Homo sapiens: one gene and its partner. The protein of the gene in region 1 purifies or fractionates together with the protein of each later gene. This does not show direct contact. Each region holds a gene or a part of one and is shown in the gene's direction. Other genes may lie near its edges. The genes, in order: POLR3G and POLR3B.

The links.
Region 2: the proteins of POLR3G (region 1) and POLR3B fractionate together in Homo sapiens (co-fractionation; 4 studies listed by BioGRID and IntAct, with this or other methods). This does not show direct contact.

Annotation. Positions count from the first base shown.
Region 1 is NC_000005.10:90,481,703-90,493,961, forward strand, and holds part of POLR3G (DNA-directed RNA polymerase III subunit RPC7), read left to right. Parts: intron 1-3,326; exon of another isoform or gene 3,327-3,822; 5' UTR 3,823-3,865; coding exon 3,866-3,982; intron 3,983-6,297; coding exon 6,298-6,427; intron 6,428-12,259. UniProt on the Homo sapiens protein: DNA-dependent RNA polymerase catalyzes the transcription of DNA into RNA using the four ribonucleoside triphosphates as substrates.
Region 2 is NC_000012.12:106,430,506-106,442,764, forward strand, and holds part of POLR3B (DNA-directed RNA polymerase III subunit RPC2), read left to right. Parts: intron 1-1,812; coding exon 1,813-1,975; intron 1,976-3,213; coding exon 3,214-3,367; intron 3,368-6,551; coding exon 6,552-6,626; intron 6,627-7,175; coding exon 7,176-7,274; intron 7,275-12,259. UniProt on the Homo sapiens protein: Catalytic core component of RNA polymerase III (Pol III), a DNA-dependent RNA polymerase which synthesizes small non-coding RNAs using the four ribonucleoside triphosphates as substrates.

The DNA of each region.
Region 1 (12,259 bases):
AAGTTAAATGTCATGTATTTTTTATATCTTGATTTGAACAAATTAACTGTAAAAACATTTATGTGATAACTAAGAAATGTGAATGTTAGTTCTATATAAGATGATGGTATAGAGTTATTGTTAAAATTGTAGATGCAATGTTATTGTGATTTTTTTAAAAGCCCTTAACTCTGAGAGAGGATACATACTGAAGAGTTTAAAATAATCTGAAGCATGGGAGTAGAAAAGTATAGTTAAAGTACAATAGTCATATACGGATAATTTTGAAGCTGAGTAGTGGGTATATGGAGATTTAATATACTGACTTTTGTGCATGTAAGTATAGTAAATGTAAGTATTAGTAAACCAAAAAAGGCATAGACTTGTAGTTTAAAACGACAACATTAAAGATGACAAATCAACTTTTAGTGTTCAAGCAGTTATGAAGGAAAACTCAAATATGGAGGCCTGCAGGGATAAATTTACGAAATGAATAATGTAAAACTATGAAACCCAAAGGGAGGGATTGAAACCAACTTTGCAAAAGTCATAACTGAGAAAATTATGACAGTGAAAGATATCAGACCTAATTGATCCCATCTTGCTTCTAACCTCTGAACTGTCCTTGTTCATTCTTGGGCGTGAAACCACCTTTGCAAAATTATGACTGAGACAGTGAAAGAGATCTAACCTAACTGTGACTCCATCTTGCTTCTAACCTTTAAGCTGTCCTTGTTCATTCCTGGGCATAGGCTGAACTAACTTTGGGAGGAAATTAGTTTATGGTTTGAAACAAAGACGATAACAGACTTTCCCAAAACAAACCTCCTCCTTGCCTGGGGACTAGACTGCCATTGTCGGACTAAGAAATTATTCACAAGATTAGAAATTATAGTTTCGGAGTCATGCAGCTGGAGGCTACAAGATTCTGACCCTCCCTAAACCACTCCAAAGATCAGTGCTTGAGATATTTTGCAGACCCTGCACTTGATGGATCAGGGGGCACTACCCAGATCGATTAACTGACTCTTCTGATCTTGTGGCCCCCACCCAGGAACTGACTCAGCAGAAGAGAACAGCTTTGACTTCCTATGATTTCATCCCCGAGCCAACCTATCTGCGCTTCCAGTTCACTGGCCCCCTACCCACCAAATTAACTTTAAAATCTCTGATCTCTGGCTGGGCGCAGTGGCTCACAACTATAATCCCAGAACTTTGGGAGGCCAAGGCGGGTGGATCACCTGAAGTTGGGAGTTCAAGACCAGCCTGACCAACATGGAGAAACCCCGTCTCTACTAAAAATACAAAATTAGACAGGCATGGTGGCGCACGCCTGTAATCTCAACTACTCGGGAGGCTGAGGCAGGAGAATTGCTTGAACCCGGGAGGCGGAGGTTGCAGTCAGCGGAGACCATGCCATTGCACTCCAGCCTGGGCAACAAGACCGAAACTCCTCCGTCTCAAAAAAAAAAAAAAAAAAAAATCTCTGATCTCCGAGTTTTCGGGGAAACTGATTTAAGGAATAATAAAACTCCGGTCTCCCGCACAGCCAGCTCTGTGTGAATTACTCTTTCTGTATTGCAATTCCCCTGTCTTGATAAATCAGCTCTGTCCAGACAGCAGGCAGGGTGAACGCCTTGGGCAGTTACAAAATCATATCTGAAAATGTTCTCAGTATCATAGCCATTATGTCAAATCAAATGCCGTGCATTCTACTTGAGTAATTCACAGAAAACAGGAAACGATGTTTCATTACATAAAGATGTTGAATATATGATTTGCTTCTGGGGCCTTAAATGTAGAAGGACATTAAAATTGGCCATCATTGGCAGGGTGCCATTGGCCGGGCACGGTGGCTCATGCCTATAATCCTAGCACTTTGGAAGGCCGAGGCAGGCAGATCACTTGAGGTCAGGAGTTTGAGACCAACCTGGCCAACATGGTGAAACCCCGTCTCTACTAAAAAAATAAGCCGGGCATGGTGGTGCGCGCCTATAATCCCAGCTACTTAGGAGGCTGAGACAGGAGAATTGCTTAAGTGAGGGAGGGAGGTTGCAGTGAAAAAAATAAATAAATAAAATATTTAAAAAATTAAATTGGCTGTCTAAAAGTGCAATGCCTTGTTACTGCTATTCCTTGCAAATGAATTAAAACTTGGACTGCCACATCCTGAGTGTTACATAGATTTACAGCAATTATAGTTATCTTACCTTTAAGGCAAATATTTTTAAGTTGCTAAGGCTAATTTTATAATTTTAAACCTCAAAGATGAGATCTATGAAGTCCTTGATTCTACATGTGTATTTTAACTCAACTACTCCTTAGTAGCTAAGACTTCCACCAAAACAGTTCTACCAATACTCTTAACATTTGCTGTGTATTAGAATCACCTGGGAAGCTTCTAAAACTGACTCTTGCCCAATCCTCACCCCAAGAGATCTGGATTGATTGGTTCAGTTCAGTGATTCACAGAACTTAGCATACATAGAATTATCTGGAAGGCTTCTTAAAACACCAGTGCTGGGCCCACTCACAGTTTCTTTTTTCTTTAGGTCTGTGGTGGAACTCACAGTTTGCATTTCTACCAAGTTCTGAGTGATGCTGCTGCAGACAGCACTCTTTGAGAACCATTGCTCTAGTTTCTTAAGCCACCCAAGTCATTCTAATGGCAGCCAGGGTTGAGAACTGAGAGCCGCTTGCTTTGTAGTGTTGGCCCTGTGATAAAGTGAGCTGGGAGTTTTCAGCCTTTTGGTCCAAAATAGTGCCTATATTCAAATTGTAGACAGTAAAATTGATATAAAGACGTAGCACCTTGTTGGTTTTACGTAGTGTTCCTTCACCATTAATGTGGTAGACTAAGAAGGGTAACATTAATGACCAGGCAAGAAACCCTGGTGAAGAGTAGAGCAGCTGTGTGAAGTACTGTGGCTTGCATAATTTTGCAAGGAGGGCAAGTGAGTAGATTCAGAAATGAGACTGAGCTGATGGGGCCAAAACCAATGCCACTCCTCTGACTTCCTCCGAGTGGTCCAGGGGACATACCATTTCTCTCTTGGGTTCAAGGGGTTAAATGAGGCTCAGTATTATCAGCAGGGAAAGAAATGTAAAGAATGTGCATTATAATCATCACTACAGTTGAATGCAGACTTCTATTGAAAGAACTCTAGCGTAGGGATCCCTGTTTATACATTGGCAGCTCAGTTCTCATAGTATAATCAGAGGATTCAAACGTTCAATACAACTTGCATATGTGATATCACTCCTGTCTCCAAAATTGAAGAGTACAGGTTTATCATAACTTTAATGATTTTAACTGTTTTTCTCTGAATTTTTTTTTTCTTGGACAGGCATCTTTCGAGTCTCATTGATCCCATTCCCATTTCTAGAAGGAAGACATTGGACTAGATCTCAGGGATTCTTCCAAACACTCACATGCTAAGATAAATCATTTAAAGTCTTAAAGTATATATGACTAATGATAGTTTTTATGTTGACATGAAAGATTTCTTCTCCTCATCAGCCTGGTCTTGTCTTGTGTCCACTTTTTATGTACATTACATCTGAGATCCTACTGCCAAACCACAGAAGGGTGGGTGAATTGCGTGGACTGGATGTGGGGCAGTAGTGGGTGAGGGGGTTGAAGCCATCATTATCTTACCTGCCAGAGGTGTGTGAGTGTGAGCAGTTCAACAGTCAGTTGTCACATGTTTATTTGTGTACATGTTTTGCTTTCCAAAAGTATTTTAAGTCAACTGTGCTACTTAAGGGGTGCAGTTTTATATTTTGCTTTAAAGTGTTGATTTCTTTTTTATATGTGATCCAGTAAATCGTAATCATTAATAGTGCCTTTCAGAATTTGCCCACTCATCTGGTATAACTGGTTCTGATGGCTGGGAATAAAGGAAGAGGACGTGCTGCTTATACCTTTAATATTGAGGCTGTTGGATTTAGCAAAGGTGAAAAGTTACCTGATGTAGTGTTGAAACCACCCCCACTATTTCCTGTAAGTATATGAACAGTTGAATTCTCATAGTGTGTTTTTTCATTTTTCAGAGAATATTAAAATTCTATATGGGACTGGATGTATGATTATAGCATCCTCAAGTATAAGAAAGTAAAGGAGAGTGTGTTTCACTTACCTTTAAATATTTTCATGATCTGCTTTCTTAAAATATAGAAAACAAAACTGTATACATCTTTCCATGAATATATTTAGTACTATGTGAACCAGTAAAGAATTAGTTTTCAATTCTTACAACTTGTATTGGTGTTATTGATAAATTCCAATATGAAAATAATAGTTTTAAAAGTCATTAGGTTTTATAATGGTTCTCAGTTCGCACCCTATCACACCTTCACTTAATGATTTTCTTATCTTGTATCTATAGAATTTAAGTTTGCTCCTTAGTATACCACTTGACTTTTTCCCCCACTGAACTTTTTTTGCTTATTTTAGTGTTGTTTTAAAATTTAGTGAGTATGCTGCAAGCTTAATTTCCATAATATATAATGTTTTCGCTTTATGTTTAGTTTAGAATGTATCCAGGGATCTAGATGTATCACACAAGGAGTCTCTGCGTTTTGCTCTTGGTATTTTACCTTTTTGATATTCAGCGCAGCATAAAAACAAAGACAAATATCTCAGGTATTGGCATAATGTCACTTTACAGTGCTTTTAAAAACAAGCTCTTTTCCATGTGTGAGGAGATTACCTCTAAACACTGGGGATGTTAGTACATAGTATTTCTTTATACTTGGAATAAAATTAAAATTCCTTACTACTGGGTAAAAGGCTCTGCCCGATCTCTCCGTTCTGATGTCTCTCTGACCCTTTTTCTACCACTGTCCTCATTCCCCAGCTACGCAGGTCTCCTTGGGTCCTCAGGCCTTTGGCCCTGCTGGTTCTCTGCTGGAACCATCTCTTCTCTTTGCATGGATGGCTCCCTGATTTTATCCCAATCTCTACTCAAATGTGACCTCCCCAAGAGGCCAGGCATGCTCACCCTGCATAGATTCCACCTCCATCCTCCATGCACTGTCAGTCATTTTTCCTTTACCCACCTTCATTTATTTTTATGTCATTTGTCACTATGTGAAATTGTATGTCACCTCATTTGTTTACTAATTTGTTGTATGTTGCTCTCCTAGAATGTAAGTTCCCTGTGGGCAGGGACTTTGACTTATTTATCATGGTATCCTCCATAGTCTAAACATGTTGAGTACTCAATAAGTAGTTGCAGCATGAATGTATACATTCCTAATCAAATTTTGAAAATGTACCTTATCTTTATCCTCTGAAATCAGAAATGTCTTTACTAGGTACCCTGGAGATCCACTTGTTAATGAACATATTTGTGTAAATATATACACACATACAAACGCGTATTTGTGTATATGTATGTGTGTGTATAATTTTTAAAACTTGAAATGCAGCTTCAAACTCCATCTTGCCATTTATTCACTTCTCAATTTCTTCACTGTAAAAGGATAAATATTGGTAGCCCTTTCAATGAGATACTGGATGTTGGATATTGAGTATATTGTAGTCATAGCAACCACTTACTAAATGATAGCTGCTGCTTTTTTATTTATTTATTTTTTTCCAATAATACCACCACTAGCTGAGGTTAATAAGAACCTAAAGCAGCTGCTCTCATTTGGGTACCTTAGTTTTTCTTTTTTTTTTTGGTACATTAATTTTTTTTTTTTTTTTTTTTTTTTTTTTTGTGAGACGGACTCTAGCTCTGTCACCCAGGCTGGAGTACAGTGGCGCGATCTTGGCTCACTGCAAGCTCCGCCTCCCGGGTTCACACCATTCTCCTGCCTCAGCCTCCCGAGTAGCTGGGAATACAGGTGCCCGCCACCATGCCCGGCTAATTTTTTGTATTTTTAATGGAGACAGGGTTTCACCATGTTACCCAGGATGGTCTCGATCTCCTGACCTCGTGATCCACCTGCCTCGGCCTTCCAAAGTGCTGGGATTACAGGCGTGAGCCACCATGCACGGCCTGGTACTTTAATTTTTAAAGTAGATAATCACATAGGTCAACAGACTGTTTGGCAAAATGATTATTGGTGTAGTTTTCAGGGCCAATAGGAAAATTACGCATCTTTCTTACCTCTAATAGAAGAGCAAAGTAGGAAATGGGTTAACAGGTTAAATAGACTACAGAAGTTCATCTTTTAAGTTGGTTGTAAAACTTAGTGCCTGTAAAACATAGTATTTCAATAAAACTGCTGTTTTCTATAATACAGATAAAAGGGATATTAAAATACATAATTGATTTGAAAAAAATCTTTGTCTCTTAATTTAAACAGGATACAGATTATAAACCAGTGCCACTGAAAACAGGAGAAGGTGAAGAATATATGCTGGCTTTGAAACAGGAGTTGAGAGAAACAATGAAAAGAATGCCTTATTTTATTGAAACACCTGAAGAAAGACAAGGTACTGTATTGGAGTCTTTGATTATGTGGCTTAATGTATACAGATGAAACAGTGTTTAAGCACAAGATATATAATCATTTAATGTTGATTGATTCGATTCAATAAAAAATTATCAACTACTTTGAAAAAGCTATTTATGTTGCTTTAACAGAAAAAATACTTTAAACTTTTTGATATTTTATTTTTAGAAATATCTTTCATTATAATTTTATATGTTCAGTGAAAATTATGAAAAACAGGAAAATTTTAAAAAGTAAAAATTACCCATTCTTATGTCTAGAGAACCACTATTAATATTTTAGTATATATTCCAGATTTTTTCTTATGCATGTATATTCTCTTTACAAAATTAGATTCACATTACTTTGTATCTTCCTTTTTTCACTCAGTAGCATATTAGCATTTTCACATATCCTTATTATTCTTGGAAAACATGACTTTTAATGACTGGTAGTCTACTCTGTGGATATATTATTATTAACTGTAACTAATTTCCTGCTTTTTAAATATTATTTTCAGTTTTTTGCTTGTATATATAATGCCGTGATTGTTATCATTATACATAAACCTTTATGCATGTCTCTGATTATTTAATATTTAGGTTAAAAAAATTTTTGAGACTTAATTTTGTTTGGTTTATCATTTAGGTGTTTGATATGATGTAAAATATGTATTCATTGGTGCTGCTTAGGGAAGAAAGGAAACATTATAGTTGGAGAGGGCTCAACAGTCTCAGGCTAGAAGTGGGAAGTGGTTTTATAGGAAAGGAAACCATTCCTGAGTAGCTGTTTAGCACAGCAGTACTATATTGATTTTTCACTTTCTGCCCTTGATTGTTGAGATTAGAGAGACTGATATCATCTTTGAGTTCTCAAAACAACATCATTAAAACATGAGAAATTCGTAGTGTCATCTCATTCCATTCGTATTAAAAATGCATTCCATTTTTCCTCTCTCTCTAGAATAGTTTGAATTGGCTGAGTCAAAAAAGGAAGCCTTATGTAATGATCTTAGCATGTGCTTATAATTATAGGAAGCATTTTAGACAAATTCATTTAATTCTCAAAACATAGCTGCTTTAAGTTATATAATGGTTTGATAAGAAATATTTTATCTCAAAAATACTTAATTTTTTTTTTTTTTTTTTGGAAATGGGATGGAGTCTCACTCTTGTCACCCAGGCTGGAGTGTAGTGGTACAATCTCGGCTCACTGCAACCTCCGCTTCCTGGGTTCAAGTGATTCTCACATCTCAGCCTCCTGAGTAGCTGGAATTGCAGACGCACAGCACCATGCCCGGCTAATTTTTGTATTTTTAATAGAGATGTTTCACCATGTTGGCTAGGCTGGTCTTGAACTCCTGACCTCAAGTGGTCTGCCCATCTCAGCCACCCAAAGTGCTGGGATTACAGACAGACGTGAGCCACCATGCCCGGCCTAATACTGAAATTTTTAACTCTCATGATGATGTTGCATGCTTTCGTCTGTTTGAGTTCTAAAATAAAACTTTTCATTTTAAAGATTTTAAAAAGTAAGACCAAATGAACTAATCAGTATTCATTCTTATTAGAAAAAATAGTAATGCAGGGTATACTTTAGTGCTTTTAAAATTGATCTTTTCTCTATGACACAGATGCACTTAGGTGAATGTGGTTGTTATTAAAGCACATGTCTAATTTAAAAGTATGTCAAATCAGACTGGACACGGTGGCTTACTCTTGTAATCCTAGCACATTGGGAGGCTGAGGCAAGCAGATCACCTGAGGTCAGGAGTTCGAGATCAGCCTGGCCAACATGGGAAAACCCTGTCTCTATTAAAAATACAAAAGTTAGCCAGGCATGGTGGTGCATTCCTGTAATCCCAGCTACTCAGGAAGCTGAAGCAGGAGAATTGCTTGAACCCGAGAGGTGGAGGTTGCAGTGAACTGAGATTATGTCACTGCACTGCAGCCTGGGTGACAGAGTGAGACTCTGTCTCAAAAAAAAAAAGTATATCATATAATTAAAGCATTTATGTGAGTGTTTTAGACAGGGATATTAAAAACATAATTTTGTTGTTGGTCTATGGGAGTGGTTGGCTAGTACTTGGATTAAGGGGCACTTTATCTTTGATAACTATGCAATAAAGTATTTCAAAATATAAGGGTTTTTTTTTTTTTTTTGCTTTTATTTCTTTCAGGGGAAAACTCTTGTATAGAAATTTCCAAATTGATACAAGTACATTCTCCCTGAGATCTTCATGTTTACTTCTGTCTTTTTTTATTTTATTGTTTTATATTTTATTTTGGAGATGAGGTCTCGCTCTGTCACCCAGGCTGGAGTGCAGTGGGACAATCATAACTCACTGCAGCTTCCAAACTCCTGGGCTCAAGTGATCCTCCCACCTCAGCCTCTTGAGTAGCTGGGACTACAGGCGCACACACCATGCCCGGCTAACTTTTAATTTTTTTTTTTTTTTTTGTAGAGACGGGAGTCTTGCTTTTTTGCTCACACTGGTCTCACATTCCTGGCTTCAAGTGATCCTCCCATCTCGGCCTTCCAAAGTGCTGAAATTACAGGCATGAGCCACCGCACCCAGCTTACCTCTGTTTCCTGATATAGTGTTTAAAAAACACACGCATGTTAAAAATAAAGGTTTTTCTATAAAATATATACATTTATATGTGCCTATATAGGTTTATATAATATGTGTATATATGTGCATACATAAATTTATATAATATCCATGCTATGAGTGAAAAAGAATTGGCCAGACTGAAGAGAACGACCCTACTGTCAGAGAGAATCATATTCCGGATAGAGATGTTGCATGACTGTACCTTCGCCAGGTGCATCACTTACCACCTGTGTGCTTTAGGAAACAGAGACTTAAGGGCTACTGTAAAGAACTAAATCACTAGACACTAGGACAGACAAATAGGGTGAGAGATCTCAAGACTTCCTGATAGTCAAGTGGCTGGTGGCTCAGGGCATTGAGATCAGTCCTCAAGAACTGATGGCATGGAATGAACATATTTCATGTTGCGATGTCTTCAAAGTTTGTTTTTAATGTTTTCAGGTAGGATTATAGAAATGATTAGTATTTTCTTTGCATCGAAATTTGTTATTTATATAATAAAGGAAAAACACCAATGAATATTATTTTAGTGAATTTTAGCTATAAGAGATCGTCTAGTCTAGTGGTTCCCAGCTCAGGTTCCTGAACCACAGGGTCCTCTGAAGTAGAAACATGATTCTGACAGTGGTGATAGTGTCATAAGTCATTTTCAGAACCTCAAAGCTTAATGGAAATTATACATTTACTTAAATACATCCACAGGTCTGTTACTGAATAAATGGAATTTGGCTTACTAATTCTTGATATACCATCAGTGTCCATGAGACCCAATATAAATTTTTGACGTTTTTTTTTTTTGGAGCAGTTCTTATTGTTTGTATGATTAATATTGATAACTTTTATTCTTGCATAGAGGTTTTCTAAAGAAGAAACAGACATTTTCTTAAAAAGGAAAACTCATTTTATCATAGAATACCATATCAGCCCATTGGACCCTTTTATATATCTAAAATAATTATGGAATCTGAGTGATCTTATTTTTTCTCTATATTGAAATACCTTGCTACTTTATCATCATACATATTATCTCATCACTATTCATCAGACATTCCCCACTATGCTGAAAAAAAGAATAAATTTAAAAAATGGGAGAATGATGAAATTGACTGTGCAATTCAAATAAATTATCACTATTATGTCATCATATAGTTTTCCTATGGTGTTGTCCAAAGCATTACATCTGTTTTTTAAGAAGTTATAAAGTCTTCAGAGACTCTTATGTTTGTAGTTGCTCTGTTTTAATTTTCATTTAATACAATTGAAAATTTCAAAAATTTTTAATTTTTTGCTCATAATGTCTAAAATTGACAGAAAAACATGTTCCACAATTCTTAGACGAATCAGAAGTCAAATGCAAAGAGATAGATAGCTCTCTGGATGCTCATGATGATGATGAAATTGATTGTATAAGCAAAATCTCAGACTGTGAGTCTTCAGATGACAGTGTCTTCAATGAATTTTCTCAAATTCAAGAATCAATGAGTAAACACTGTATCTCCAAGAATTAAAAAGGAATTATGGTGGCCTTCTACAGTCAATCTTTGAAAAAGAACTCATCATGTAATACTTTGTAACAAAAACCTGGAACATCCTGTTTGCTAAAATGAGACGATCATTTTTGTTCTATGATATTTGTGCACCAAAATTAATTTGATGTGTTTTGTAACTGACAAATGCTGAACATAAAGGCAAAGACAACAATGATTGAAAGGAAATTGATTATATAGACATGAAATTGTTTTCTGGATTGATTGTGTTAACTGGTGATTATAAATTTAATAATGAAAATATTTTGCAAGTATAGAGCAAAGAAGATGGCTGGGCCATCCTCTCTTCAATAGAAGTATGAGACATCAGCCGGGCGCAGTGGCTCACCCCTGTAATCCCAGCACTTTGGGAGTCTGAGGCAGGTGGATCACGAGGTCAGGAGATCAAGACCATCCTGGCTAACATGGTGAAACCCCGTCTCTACTAAAAATACAAAAAATTAGCCAGGCGTGGTAGAGGGCACCTGTACTCCCAGCTACTCGGGAGACTGAGGCAGGAGAGTGGAGTCAACCTGGGAGTGAGCCGAGATTGTGCCACTGCACTCCAGCCTGGGCAAGACTCCGCCTCAAAAAAAAAAAAAAAAAGTATGAGACATCAAAGTTTTTTAAAGTATTGCATTTTGGATATGTAAGTACAAGAAGAAGAATTGGAAGTAGTGATAAGCTAGATTCTACTAGAAATGCATTTATAATCTGAAATTATTTAGATGATACACATATGAGAAAACCAGAGGAAATTATAAGTTAGAACCTATTAAAGATGTCTTTGGAATCTGGGATCAGGACGTACAGAAGGCATATATTCTAGGTTTGTATGTGGCAGCCGATGCACAGAAAACTGCATTCAAATGACTTTGCCCATTTTGGTTAAATTTACCTTCAAAATCAGTAAAACATGTAATATAAATTTGGATTTGCTATACTTAATTGCTTAGTAAAATCTCCAATAACTTTATTTATTTATTTTTATTTGAGACAGGATCTCGTTCTGTCACCCAGGCTGGAATGCAGTGGCATAATCTCAGCTCACTGCAGCCTCCACCTCCCAGGCTCAAGTGATCCTCCCACCGTAGCCTCCCAAGTAGCTGGAACCACTGGCATGAGCTACCATGCCCAGCTAATTTTTGCATTTTTTGTAGAGATGGGGGTTTCACCATGTTGCTCAGGCTGGTCTCGAACTCCTGGACTCAAGGGATCCAGCTGCCTTGGCCTCCCAAAGTGCTGGGATTACATCCTGAGCCACTGTGTTGGGCCTAGTTTTATTGATTTTTAAGTAACAGCTTTACTGAGACATAATCCACTATATAAAATTTACTTTTTAAAGTGTACAATTCAGTGACTTTTAATATAGCCACAGAGTTGTGCAATCAACACCACTATTTAATTTTTTTTTTTTTTTTTTTTTTTTTTTTTTTTTTTTTTTTTTTTTTTTGAGACAAGAGTCTTGCTCTGTTACCCAGGCTGGAATGCAGTGGCATTATCTCAGTTCACTGCAACCTCCACCTCCTGGATTCAAGTGATTCTCTTGCCGCAGTCTCCCAAGTAGCTGGGATTACAGGCACGTGCCACCACACATGGCTAATTTTTTTGTGTTTTTAGTATAGATGGGGTTTCACCATGTTGGCCCGGCTGGTCTTGAACTCCTGACCTATTAGCAATCTACCTGCCC
Region 2 (12,259 bases), on another chromosome or scaffold:
AGAGGCGATACCTATGTCTGTGCATGGGGTGGGGTGGGGAGGTCTGCTTCTGTTCCCATCTCCAGGCCATATCCTTTCTTTGGTCTGTCATTTATCTGGCAAATAAATATTGACATGCTTGGAAGACTACATTAGTATCATTCTAAAACTAGGACCTGCAGAAGCATTTGATTCAGTATGTTAGCTAAAAGTAATATAGTCCATGTTTCTCTTTATTATTTTAGTTTATCCCAAAATCAAAACATGCACAGAGGGGATAAGACTGTGAAGGCAGATTGAAAGACCTACCACCTCTCATGCTCATGAGGGGCTCTTTTTGAGCAGCTCCTTATTGTCCTTAGGTAGGCTCAGTCACAGCCAATTAGGAGTATACAGTCCATGACCTAATGTGGATTTTGACTCACTTATATTGGAAACACAAGCAATTGCCTAAACATCAAGCCAGGGAGTTTACATGGGTTTACTTCTATAGCACCCGCTACTCCCTGTGTCACGGTCCTTTCTCCTTTGTGTTAACATTGTTAGTTTCACTTGATTCTATTCCTTCTAAATTGTAAAATTCTGGAGGAAGGAAGGTTCACCATTGTATCTCAAGCTCCTAACATAGAGCCTTGGTTAGAGTACAGGCCCCATGAATATATGCTGAATTAATAATTACAACAAGTAAAAGATGTAGGGTCCAAAGTGTAGGAATTTATTATTTGGAAGAGATGAAAATAGGAGTCTGTATAGAGCTGCGATTTTTAGAAACTATTTAATTTATCTTAAACCATATGGAAATTGACACTAAAATTATCCAGTTTGTCAAATTTTGCATAATTTATATATCTTGAACTTTGAAACATTTCATTTCCCAGAGATTGCTTCAGCTAACTTCAAAAAAGTAGCTATTTTGTACATTACTGCAGCAGATGGTTCTAAGACCTGAAGATACAATCTTACAAGTCACCTGTCTTAAGTATTTTTTTCCTATTTGCTATATTCTGTCCTTGTTGGTATTTTTGTTTTAGAACTGTACCGGGTTGCATAGATGTTTAAAAAGATTTCTTTTCTTTTCATTTTGAAATAATTTTAGATATACAAAAAAGTGATGAAACTGGTACAAAGATTTTCCACAATCTTTCATCTAGATTCCCAACTGTGAACATCTTATGTAACCATAGCACTGTTATCAGCCTCATGACATTGAACAATACTATAATCTATGGATCTTATTCAAATTTTGCCAGTTGTCCCACTGTTGTCTTTTTTCTGATCCAGAATCACACATTGTTTTTAGTTGTCATGTCTCCTTGTCTCTTTTCATCTGAAAGAGTTTTTCAGTCTGTCTTTATTTACCTTTCGTGACCAAGAAACTTAAGGGCACTGGCCAGTTATTTTATACAGTCTCTCATTTCAGGCCAGAAGTTTTATATTTTTATGTAGCTGCATTTATTAATGTTTTCCTTTACTTATTTTATACAATGTCATCATAATGACTGTAATGTTCCAATGTCTGGGAGTAATTGTTAATGTAATCAGTTTTGTTGGGCATTTATGATGTCGTCAGCATTTACAATTACAAATAGTACTGTGCTGAGCATTTCTGTATCTAAATCTATTTTATATCCTTGCTTGTTATGAAGAGAAATTCCCCTGAGTTAAGGGATATATATATTTTTTAAAGGCATTTGTGCGAATCACCACAGTATCCCCTACAAAGTTGTACTGCTTTGCATTGCTGCCAGCAAAGTAGTGAGCTATTTTCAGATGTAAACTGTACTTTGTATTACTAATGTTCATTCTTAGAAATGACCATCTTTTGTTTTTTAGGCATGTGGTTTGGTTAAAAACTTGGCCCTTATGACACACATCACAACTGATATGGAAGATGGACCCATTGTTAAATTAGCCAGTAACTTGGGAGTAGAAGATGTGAATTTATTATGTGGGGAAGAGCTCTCTTACCCAAATGTGTTTCTTGTCTTTCTTAATGGTGGGTATATTATAGAGACATGTTGGTCCTAGATAGTCTGTGAAGAGGGGGAGGGAATCCATTATTATCCTGGTATTTAAAGCACAGATAGACTTTAATTCTGGGCCCAGGTTGACCTTCACTTAAAGGTAGAAAATACAATGATAACAGAAACAGTTACTTTGTTGGCTGGGTTATCCAAGGTTCTGAGAGGATATAGCTATCAGAGCTAAAGGGTAACTTTGCAGAAAGTGGCTGCTTTCTCCCCTTTTGCAGTTGCTGGCATATCCTTAGTGGAATACGGTTCAACATGGTATCTTTAAGTACAAGTCAAATATTGGAGTCATTCTGCAAAAATTATCAGATCAACTCTTATAATGAATTGACTTTGTCTAGCCATCTGATAATCAATATGTCAGCAGCCTGTGATAAGAGGATCCCTCTCCTTTGGCTCACACTCCAGTTATTTCTTTCATATACCTCTTCCCGTCTCCTTCGAAGTCTTCCAGAGACTTAGCAGCAAGTGTGCTCTCTTCCTTTCTGCTTTTGATTTGGTGCTGTGTGCCTGTTCTCTCCCTAGTATGCTCCATGAGCTTATCCCTTATCACTTGTCTGTTCTCTCTTCCTCTCCCCCTTCCTCTCATTCTAGGAGGCATTAACTCTTTTTTATATCTGCTGGTGAGGAAGGGGTCAGAGCCTCAGCAGGGCTGTTAACTGACTGCCTAGTTCATTGTATCCCAGAGGCTAACATTGAGTGAGCTTTTACTCTGCACTTTCACCCAGTGCCTCTTTGAATCCTCCCGCTAACCTTGGGAAGCAAAGTTCATTTTCCTCATTTCACAAATGTTGATTACAACAAGAAGCAGTTTAATAATAGCAGTTAGTAGGTGCTAGGCAGAATTCTCAGTACTTTAAATGATCAGCTCGTTTAACCTTTACTGCCAGCCTGTGGAAGTGATGGAGCCAGTGTTCAAACCCAGGTTGTTTGGACCCCAAGTTCATGCCCCAGCACTGTGCTGAAAGATGAGGAAAATGAAGCTGACTTTTCCAGTATTCCTCAGCCTGCATGTGGAAGGACTGGCCCTTAAGCATTCTTCCTTTGTTGCTTCCCTGCAACCTTGTGGACTGGCTGCAGGTGTTAATAATGGTATTTTCAAATAACTGCTTAGTGCTGATTACTATTTTTATTGGTTGGATATATTAAATCAGGTTGCATTTATTTTTTATTTCTGTCTTACCTGTTCTTTCTTTTTGCCTAGGTAACATCTTAGGTGTCATTCGAGACCACAAAAAGCTAGTGAATACATTTCGACTCATGAGAAGAGCAGGATATATCAATGAATTTGTTTCCATCTCAACAAATCTTACAGATCGATGTGTCTATATTTCTTCTGATGGGGGAAGGCTATGCAGGTATATATGCAGGTTACTAAAAAGAGTTTTTAAGAATCTCTTTATATTTGCTCTTGAAAGAAATAGACTTGTTTTTATTTTTGAAACTGTTTTAACCTCTTTCATTGTGAAGATAAATTTAATTCCGTGAGCAAACACTTCATGAATATGCATATTAGGTACCGAGGATTCAGATTAATGGGAGACAGAGTCTGCCCTCAGAGAGCTCAGTCTGCCGGGAAAGGCAGAAAAAATGACTAATAACAATCAACTGTGGTAGTGGTTAATGCTAGCCACCATTTGTCATTTTAATGGAGACACTATATGTGTAAGGCTTTAACTTCTTCATTCAACCCTATGAGGTTGGATTATTCTTGTCATTTAAGAAATGAGGAAACTGAGGTTCAGTGAGGCTAAGTAACTTACTGAAAGCTAAAGAGTGGTGGAATCTGTTTTTTATTTGAAAGTCCTTAGGATTCGTTTGACGCATGATTTTGCCCACTATAGTCTGTTGCTACAAACTGAGCTTTAAAGGAGGAGTAGGATTGTGTTAACTTGGAGGTAGGTGGGGAGGAGAAAGGCTGAAAAAAGGCAAGAATGAAAACATGGAGGCATGAAGAAATAAAATAACACTAGATCCAATGGAAAAGTAGGTTCCTTTTATTCATTCAGTAAGTATTTATTAAGGGCCTATTGTGCACAGGTACTATCTAGGAGCCGGAGGTACAGAGACGAATGTGACATGGTGTCTGGTTTGAGGGGCTATGCAGAGACATCAGCTGAGGACATTGCCTTGTGTCACAAGCCTTTTCTAGCATTACCGTAGTTATTCTGTGTATACCTCGGGTAGTGTTGAAGCACAAGGCAGTGAGCCAGCAGTAGCTGGAAGTCTGTCAGAGCTGGGAGAGTGACTGCATGCTTTCTTTCCTCCAGCATCCTTTCCTCCTTCATATGACACTACCTCATTTTCTTTTGAGGACTGCCTGTCCCCATTGGCAGGCTTCTTGGGATGGTCAGTCCAGCACCCTCTTCTCTTCAGCCAGGGGTTGGGCATATGACCCAAATGAGGTCAGTCAGACCCCCTCATCAGAGAATTTGAATCCCAGGTAAAATAAATCAAGGGAGGGAGGTGGTTGGACTTGATTCATTCTCCCAGTGCTACATGCAAGAGACTGCCTGTTAAACCTCATTTTCTGGATTCTTGGAACTGCTCTCGTTCCTTTTCTTTCTGAGGCTGAGCATTTCACCTTTTTCTTTGATTCTTATCCTTCCATTAAATTATTTTTTTTTTTTTGAGACAGAGTCTCACTTTGTCACCCAGGCTGCAGTGCAGTGGTACGATCTTGAGTCACTGCAGCCTCCGCCTCCCAGGTTCAAGCGATTCTCATGTCTCAGCTCCCCACCCCCGTCCCTGACCCAGTAGCTGGGATTACAGGCACACACCACTGCCCCTGGCTAATTTTTTGTATTATTAGTAGTGATGGGGTTTCACTGTGTTGGCCAGGCTGGTCTCGAACTCCTGGCCTCAAGTGATCCACCCACCTCAGCCTCCCAAAGTGCTGGGATTACAGGTGTGAGCCATCGCACCCAGCACCTGTAAATTCTTAATGCTTCCAGTAAACTTCATTTTTGCTTAAATTAGCCAGAATTGGTTTCTCTTCTTTGCAACCGAAGAATGGTTAGCTGATGATATACCTGTGTTTGAATCCTAACTTCCCACTTACTGAGTTGTGTGACTCTGAGTATACTACTTCAGTCTCTCAGCCTTGGTTTCCTTGGCTGTAAAATGGAAACAATAATGCCTGCCTAAGATTGTCCTGAGAACTAGTTGATAGAAGGTGTGGTAAGTGCTCAGTAGGGTGCCAGGCACACATTAGGTGCTTATTTATAACTTAATAGCATGGTCCAGTTAAGGGCAGGAATAACAGTGACATTTTCTAGGTTACTCTTTTTTAGGATTTCATTACATCCAACATAATATATATTCAAAAATAAAACTCTTTTATAGAAGCAACTTTATAATGGCATAACAGATCTAGCAGGAAAAAATAGTAGAATGCGTTGAGTAACGTAAGGATAACTGAGGCAGCTAAATGTGATCCCCTCCCTCTCCTCCGCCGGTTTCTGTCTTCTCATCTGAGGCTTAACCTGAATCCACTGCAGCGCTCAAATGAGGCATTAGTAGGCTCTGCTTCCCTACCAAGAAGGAGCCAGAATTTCGAGGTACTGTGGATTTCCATGAAAAGCTCACCCAGTTCATTTTTCAACAACTTGTGTTCCCCTTTTGTAATTGTGCAGCTCCTCTTCTTAACTGTTGAAAAGTGCTCATTAGTCCTCAAATAGTTATTTGGACTTTAGGGTAGAGCGCACAAGTGTCTGGTGGTTACTTGCTCCTCTCTGTAAGAGCTGCTTATCCAAATAGCAACAGCCCTTGACGTTTCAGTGCCGCATGCCATCCTTTGTGTCCGGGTTTCCTCATGGTGGCAAAGCCCTCCGAGGCAAGTCCCCACTGACAGTTACAGGTTAATCTGCCAGAATGCCTTCTCCACCTTCCACCCATTACGTCACTGAAAACCACAAAGTAAGAAAGCTTCATTCTCTGCCAACTTTTAGCCACTCTCTTTGGTAATGTGTAGCTTTAAGTATCTTGCTAACCTAGCTCAGTGATGTTTAGACTAAATCAAACTACTCTAAACATCTGGATATTCATCAGAACCTCACAACACAACGCCGTTATTACCCTAGGTGACAGTGCTTCTTTGCCTGTTAACTCCATGAGTAGTATGCAAAATTTTCCAATGTGAAATCGGGAAGTTTTTAGATTGATACATTACACCGTTTTTTAAAATATGGCATTAAAGGTTTTGTTTCCTTTTCAGACTTTGAGTATCATTTTTGTGTTGCCTTTTCATTCAAAACCAAATGTTTCCTAAGATACTTGCAGGAAGCACTGTGTGTGTGCATGAATATGTCCACACATACTCACATGTACACATGGGCTTGGGTATGTATGTGTGTGTATGTGAGAGAGAGCATAGTCCCCTACACCATGCTCATCCATACAAAAATTACCTGGTGTCCTCAGCAATCCAGGAATAGGTTTGTTTGTATTTACATCTTCCCTCATCTCACTTTGGTAAACTAACTTGCCTGTGTAATTTTTCCCTGGAACTATTATTAATTTGGTTTGCTGTTTCCATTCTAGACCCTACATAATTGTCAAGAAACAGAAGCCAGCAGTCACAAATAAACATATGGAAGAGCTGGCCCAAGGGTACAGGTAAGTAGCCAAAAGTAAAACTTACCAATCTCCTTAATACCCACATACATGATTTAAGAAAAGTGTATTTTCATTTTAGTGTTTTAATTTCTTTCCACCAAATTACCAGCCTGTTAAAAACCTATTTTGCTCCATGTGAACTTGCTTGGACATTGTAAAATATTCATCAATTTAGATCATGAGGGTTACCTAGTCTTGATGTCAGTTAGTACACAAGTAAGTGTTTCTGGTAAGAAAAGGACTTACATCATGTGTCAGTGTAGACACTGTGGGTCTCATTATGAGGTTTCTAAGGTCAGAATTTTTTTTTTAAGAAGTGGGGACTAGGTTCACAAGAGTTACAGACAGACACTTTGCTGTTTTTATTTCAGCAGTTTGTGGTTACTGTGTGAGCTAAGAATAACATGTTTCAGGTATCCCAATGTAATGATATTCTCTGGGAGAGAAAGGTGCTTTGGGCCTAAACGAAAGCCAGTATCTCCTGTTATTATATAAAATACTGCAGAAAAATGCTTTTTAATGATGTCTCTTTCACCAATATTTTCCCAGGAATTTTGAAGATTTCTTACATGAGAGTCTGGTTGAATATTTAGATGTGAATGAAGAAAATGATTGTAACATTGCACTGTACGAACACACAATTAATAAGTAAGTAGGATCCATAGCAACCATAATTAAAACGTGTTCTGACTATAGAAACTACCTTCTCTTTTACTGTCATCTTCAGTCCTTCTATCTTTTACTCTTTTGACAGGAACTGTTAGAAATATACAATCTTCTTTTTTTTGTTTGAACATGCAGGTTTGTTACATAGGTAAACGTGGGCCATGGTGGTTTGCTGTACCTATCAACCCATCACCTAGGTATTAAGCCCAGCATGCATTAGCTATTTATCTTGATGCTCTTCCTCCCCCAACCCCCTAACAGTCCCCCTGGTGTGTGTTGTTCCCCTCCCTGTGTCCATGTGTTCTCATTGTTCAGCTTCCACCTGTGAGTGAGAACATGCGGTGTTTGGTTTTCTGTTCCTGTGTTAGTTTGCTGAGGATGGCTTCCAGCTTCATCCATGTCTCTGCAAAGGACATGATCTTGTTCCTTTTTATGACTGCATAGTATTTCATGGTATATATGTATATTGTATATTTCTGTATGTACCATAAAGAAATATACAATTTTATAGCAGAGCATAACGCATCATTTATCCTAGTGAAGAGTATTACAAAGCAGCTAACAAGTCATCTTTAGATTTAATTATCCTTCCTATTCGTGTGACAGTTTATATATATACACACACACACTCATAGAAAGATATATCCATATATCCATATAGATAGATAACCATATATATATATGTATATAAAACCATATATATGTTTTTTTTTTTTTGAGACAAGGTCTTGCTCTGTCACCCTGAAGGAGTACAGTGGCACAACATAGCTCAGTGAAACTTAAAACTCCTGATCTCAAGTGATCCTCCCACTTCAGTCTCCTGAGTAGTTGGGATTACAGGCATGAGCCACCATGCCCAGCCTTAATGTGTATTTTTTAAAAGGAGTTGCTTCTCTGATTTTAATACTTGATTACTGCCAAAGTTGAACTAATGAATCAAGCTGTATAAAAATATACTTACCTCTGTTAGAGATGATTTTTGTCCATGGACATCTGAATTCTTGTCAGTGCAGGAATTCTCTACATAGTCTGTTCAAAAACTCTAAGTTTATGTGCAGTATGCACTTGAATTGGTAGTATGTTCACAATATTTCTTCTTGAACAATGATATTTTTAGAAGCATCTGTGTTCCATTTTAGAGTACATTAAAGAACATCTATGTAACTTGCTGTCTGATGCATGTGACTGATGTACCACTTACCTGAAATTGGAATTCTTGCAGATATATTGCTAGAGAGTTTAATACTACCACCTAATAACTATTTATGTCTTCAATCAAGAATAAGTACTTTTCTGACCCAGTGTAATGGCTCACCCCTATAATCCCAGTGCTTTGGGAGACTGAGGCAGGAGAATCGCCTGAGGCCAAGAGTTTGAGACCAGCCTGGACAACATAGCAAGACCCTATGTCTAAAAATAAAAATAAAAAATTAGCTGGACACAGTGGCACACACCTGTAGTCCTAGCTACTTGGGAGGCTGAGGTGGAAGGATCATTTGAGCCCAGGAGTTATGGGTTACACTGAGCTATGATTGTGCCACTGCACTCCAGCCTGGGTAAGAACCTATCTCTTAAAACAGGAAAAAGAAAAACTTTTCTGTTTTCTGCTACCAAATGAAATATATTACTTTTTAGAAGATTATAATTTACCAGCCTGGGTAACATGGCAAGACCCCGTCTCTACAAAAAACTTAAAAATTAGCCAGGTGTGGTGATGTACGCCTGTAGTCCCAGTAACTCAGGGGGCTGAGGCTAGAGGATTGCATGAGTCCAGGAGGTGGAGGCTCTGTGAGCCATGTTCATGCCACTGCACTCCAGCCTGGGTGACAAAGCAAACCCTGTTGCCAATATATATATTGCAAATATATATATTTTTTGCACTTTGTAAATAGTGGTTTTTGGTCAGAATTTTTCTTCCTTAAAGATGTGAATCTCTCAAAGTGCTATTTTATACCCCTCATTTCAAAATTGACTGAGGGCCAGGTGTGGTGGGTCACACCTATAATCCCAGCAATTTGGGAGGCTAAGGCATGAGGGTTGCTGGAGCTCAGGAGTTTGAGATCAACCTGGGCAACACAGTGAGACCTCATCTCTACTAAAAATAAAAAAAAGTTAGCCAAGTGTTGTGGTGTGCACCTATGATCCCAGCTACTTGGGAGGCTGAGGTGGAAGGATCACTTGAGCACAGTTTGAGGCTGCAGTGAGCTATACTTGGAACACCACTGCATTCCAGCTTGGGCGAGAGAGTGAGACCCTTACTCAAAAAAAATATAGATATAGATATGTATCCTGAGTATAAAAGAAAACTATTTTATAGTAGCCCCATAAATGACAGTTCCATCGTTGTATTACTCAAGCCAACAAAACTGTCTATTTCCGTCCTGACCCTTTTTCTCTATATTGACATCAATCCCTAGCTCATCACATGAGCCTTCCAAATACATCTGGAATCTGAACTCTTTTTCACTACCTCAATCCATCACCTAGTCCAGGCCATTTGTATGTCTTACCTGGATTTTTGCAAAGGCCTCCTGACTATTTTGACACCTGTTCCCATATAGTCTTTTCCTAATAGAGCAGAGGGGGCATGTCCGTTCTCTTCTCAAATCCCTCAGGGGCTGTCGGTCTCCCTCAGAAGTCCTTACAGAAGCCTTCCAGTTCCTGCACAATCTGCCCACTTCCATTTCTACCTCTCCCCACTCCCTGTTTCAACCACACTGGCCTCTTCTCCAAACACTCCAGGCGTGCCTCTGCCTTAGCACCTTTGCACTGGCTGCTTCCTCTGCCTGGAGCACTCTCTCACATACCTGCATGGCTCACTGCTTCACCCCCTCCAGGTCTTCACTTAGGTGTCACCTTCTCGTGAGATTTTTCTGACCACTCTAGTGAAAGTAGAAACTCTTATCTCTATCCACTCCTCTTTACTACTTTTTTTTTTTTTTTACTTCTTGTGCCTATTACCATAGAGTAAAATTGGTATTTTACTGATGTATCTATGTATTGTCTATCTTCCCTCACTTAGAAGCTTCACGAAGGCAGGGATTTTCATCTGGTTTTTCATTGATGTAAATGAATATAACTCTCAGCGTTACCCAATTACCAAGCTATTCCATACATCAAATTAATTTCATTTAAAAAATCTAGAAGTTTTTGTATTATTTAATTCATACTTATGTTTTTTAAAATATAGAAATGCATGAAGTACAAAGAATGAATCCCCTTCCTTTCCCATCCCACCAGACTCCACCCTCCAGAAGTTGCCGATGCTAATAATTTCTTATGTACTATTCTAGATTTTTTTTCTGAGTACAAACATACACACATGATTCCACACAATGTGTGTGTATAAAACAGTGATAACATTTCCAGTGCCTTGATTTTGAAACTTAACCAGTATACTCTGGACATTTTCCATATTAGTATATATATTTATATACATGTATATTTGTATACACAGTCTTATGTCACTTAATGATGGGGATGCGTTCTGAGAAGTTTGTTGTCAGGTGATTTCATTATGTGAATATCGTAGTGTACTTAAACAAACCTAGATGGTGTCTGTCACCCACTGTCACCTACTACACACATAGACTGTATGCTAAAGCCTATTGCTTCTAGACTACAAACCTGTACAGCATATTACTCTACTGAACATTGTAGGCAGTTGTAGCACAATGGTAAGTATTTGTGTATCAAAACATATCTAAACAAAGAAAAGGTATAGTAAAAATGCAGTATTATAATCGTTTGGAACCACCACCATTTATGCAGTCTGTTGTTGACCAAAATGTTATGTGGTGTGTGACTGTATACATATATATATTTTTTTAATTGCCATTTGTTATTACATTATCTACCTACACACATTTAGTTTATTAACTAGTTTCCTACTGTTGAATATTTAGGTAGTTTCCAATTTTTCTACTGTTATAAACAACAGGTTATTTAGTTTTCATTCGAACTAAATTTAAGTGCTTTATACACAGTGAATAAGAAATCTCGGCTGAGTGCAGTGGCTCACGCCTGTAATCCCAATACTTTGGGAGGCCAAGGCAGGCAGATCACCTGAGGTTGGGAGTTTGAGACCAACCTGACCAACATGGAGAAACCCTATCTCTACTAAAAATACAAAATTAGCTGGGTGTGGTGGCGCATGTCTGTAATCCCAGCTACTCCGGAGGCTAAGGTGGGAGAATCACTTGAACCCGGGAGGCGGAGGTTGCAGTGAGCCAAGATCGCACCATTGCACTCCAGCCTGGGCAGCAAGAGCGAAAATCCGCCTCAAAAAAAAAAAAGAAAGAAAGAAAGAAAGAAATCTCCCAATTCCTGTTCAGTTTCTAAACTGATGATTTTAAAGAGAATAATTTTTTTTTTTTGTAAAGTCAGAATCTAGAGTGTTTGGACTTCCAGTAATTATTAGATACTATGTGAGTTTATGTATGTTGTCACCATAAGAGAAAAAAACTTCAGATATTTCTTTTCATTTTTCAACTCAATCCAATGTTAACATCTGAAAAAGTAGTTTTTACTTAGATGGAAAATGTCAACTTGGCCAATATTTAAACAAAGCAGTATATTTAAAAGAAAATCTGTTTTCTTCTAGACTATAAAATGTAGCTATAAGCTGATGTTCTTTAAAGAAAAAAGCAAAACAAAACCTAGAGTATTTTCCCTTCCTGCTTAACAAAGGAAGTCTTTTCCCTTCCTGCTTGTCTGAGAGGATTGGGGTTCTGCTAGGTCATAAGGTGAAAACAGTACTCTTCAAACCAAGAACCACATGGAAGGCACTTTCTCTCACCAAACTAGGGACATAATTTAATACATGTGTTTTGGAAAAAAAAATAGGTTAATAACTGGATAAGTGGGAGATCTTTTACCAGGTACATTCCATTGATGGGCTGGGACGTGGTTTCTTGGACATCACTTCAGTCCACAGGTGCTGTAAACCACTGAAATTCTTAAGGTTA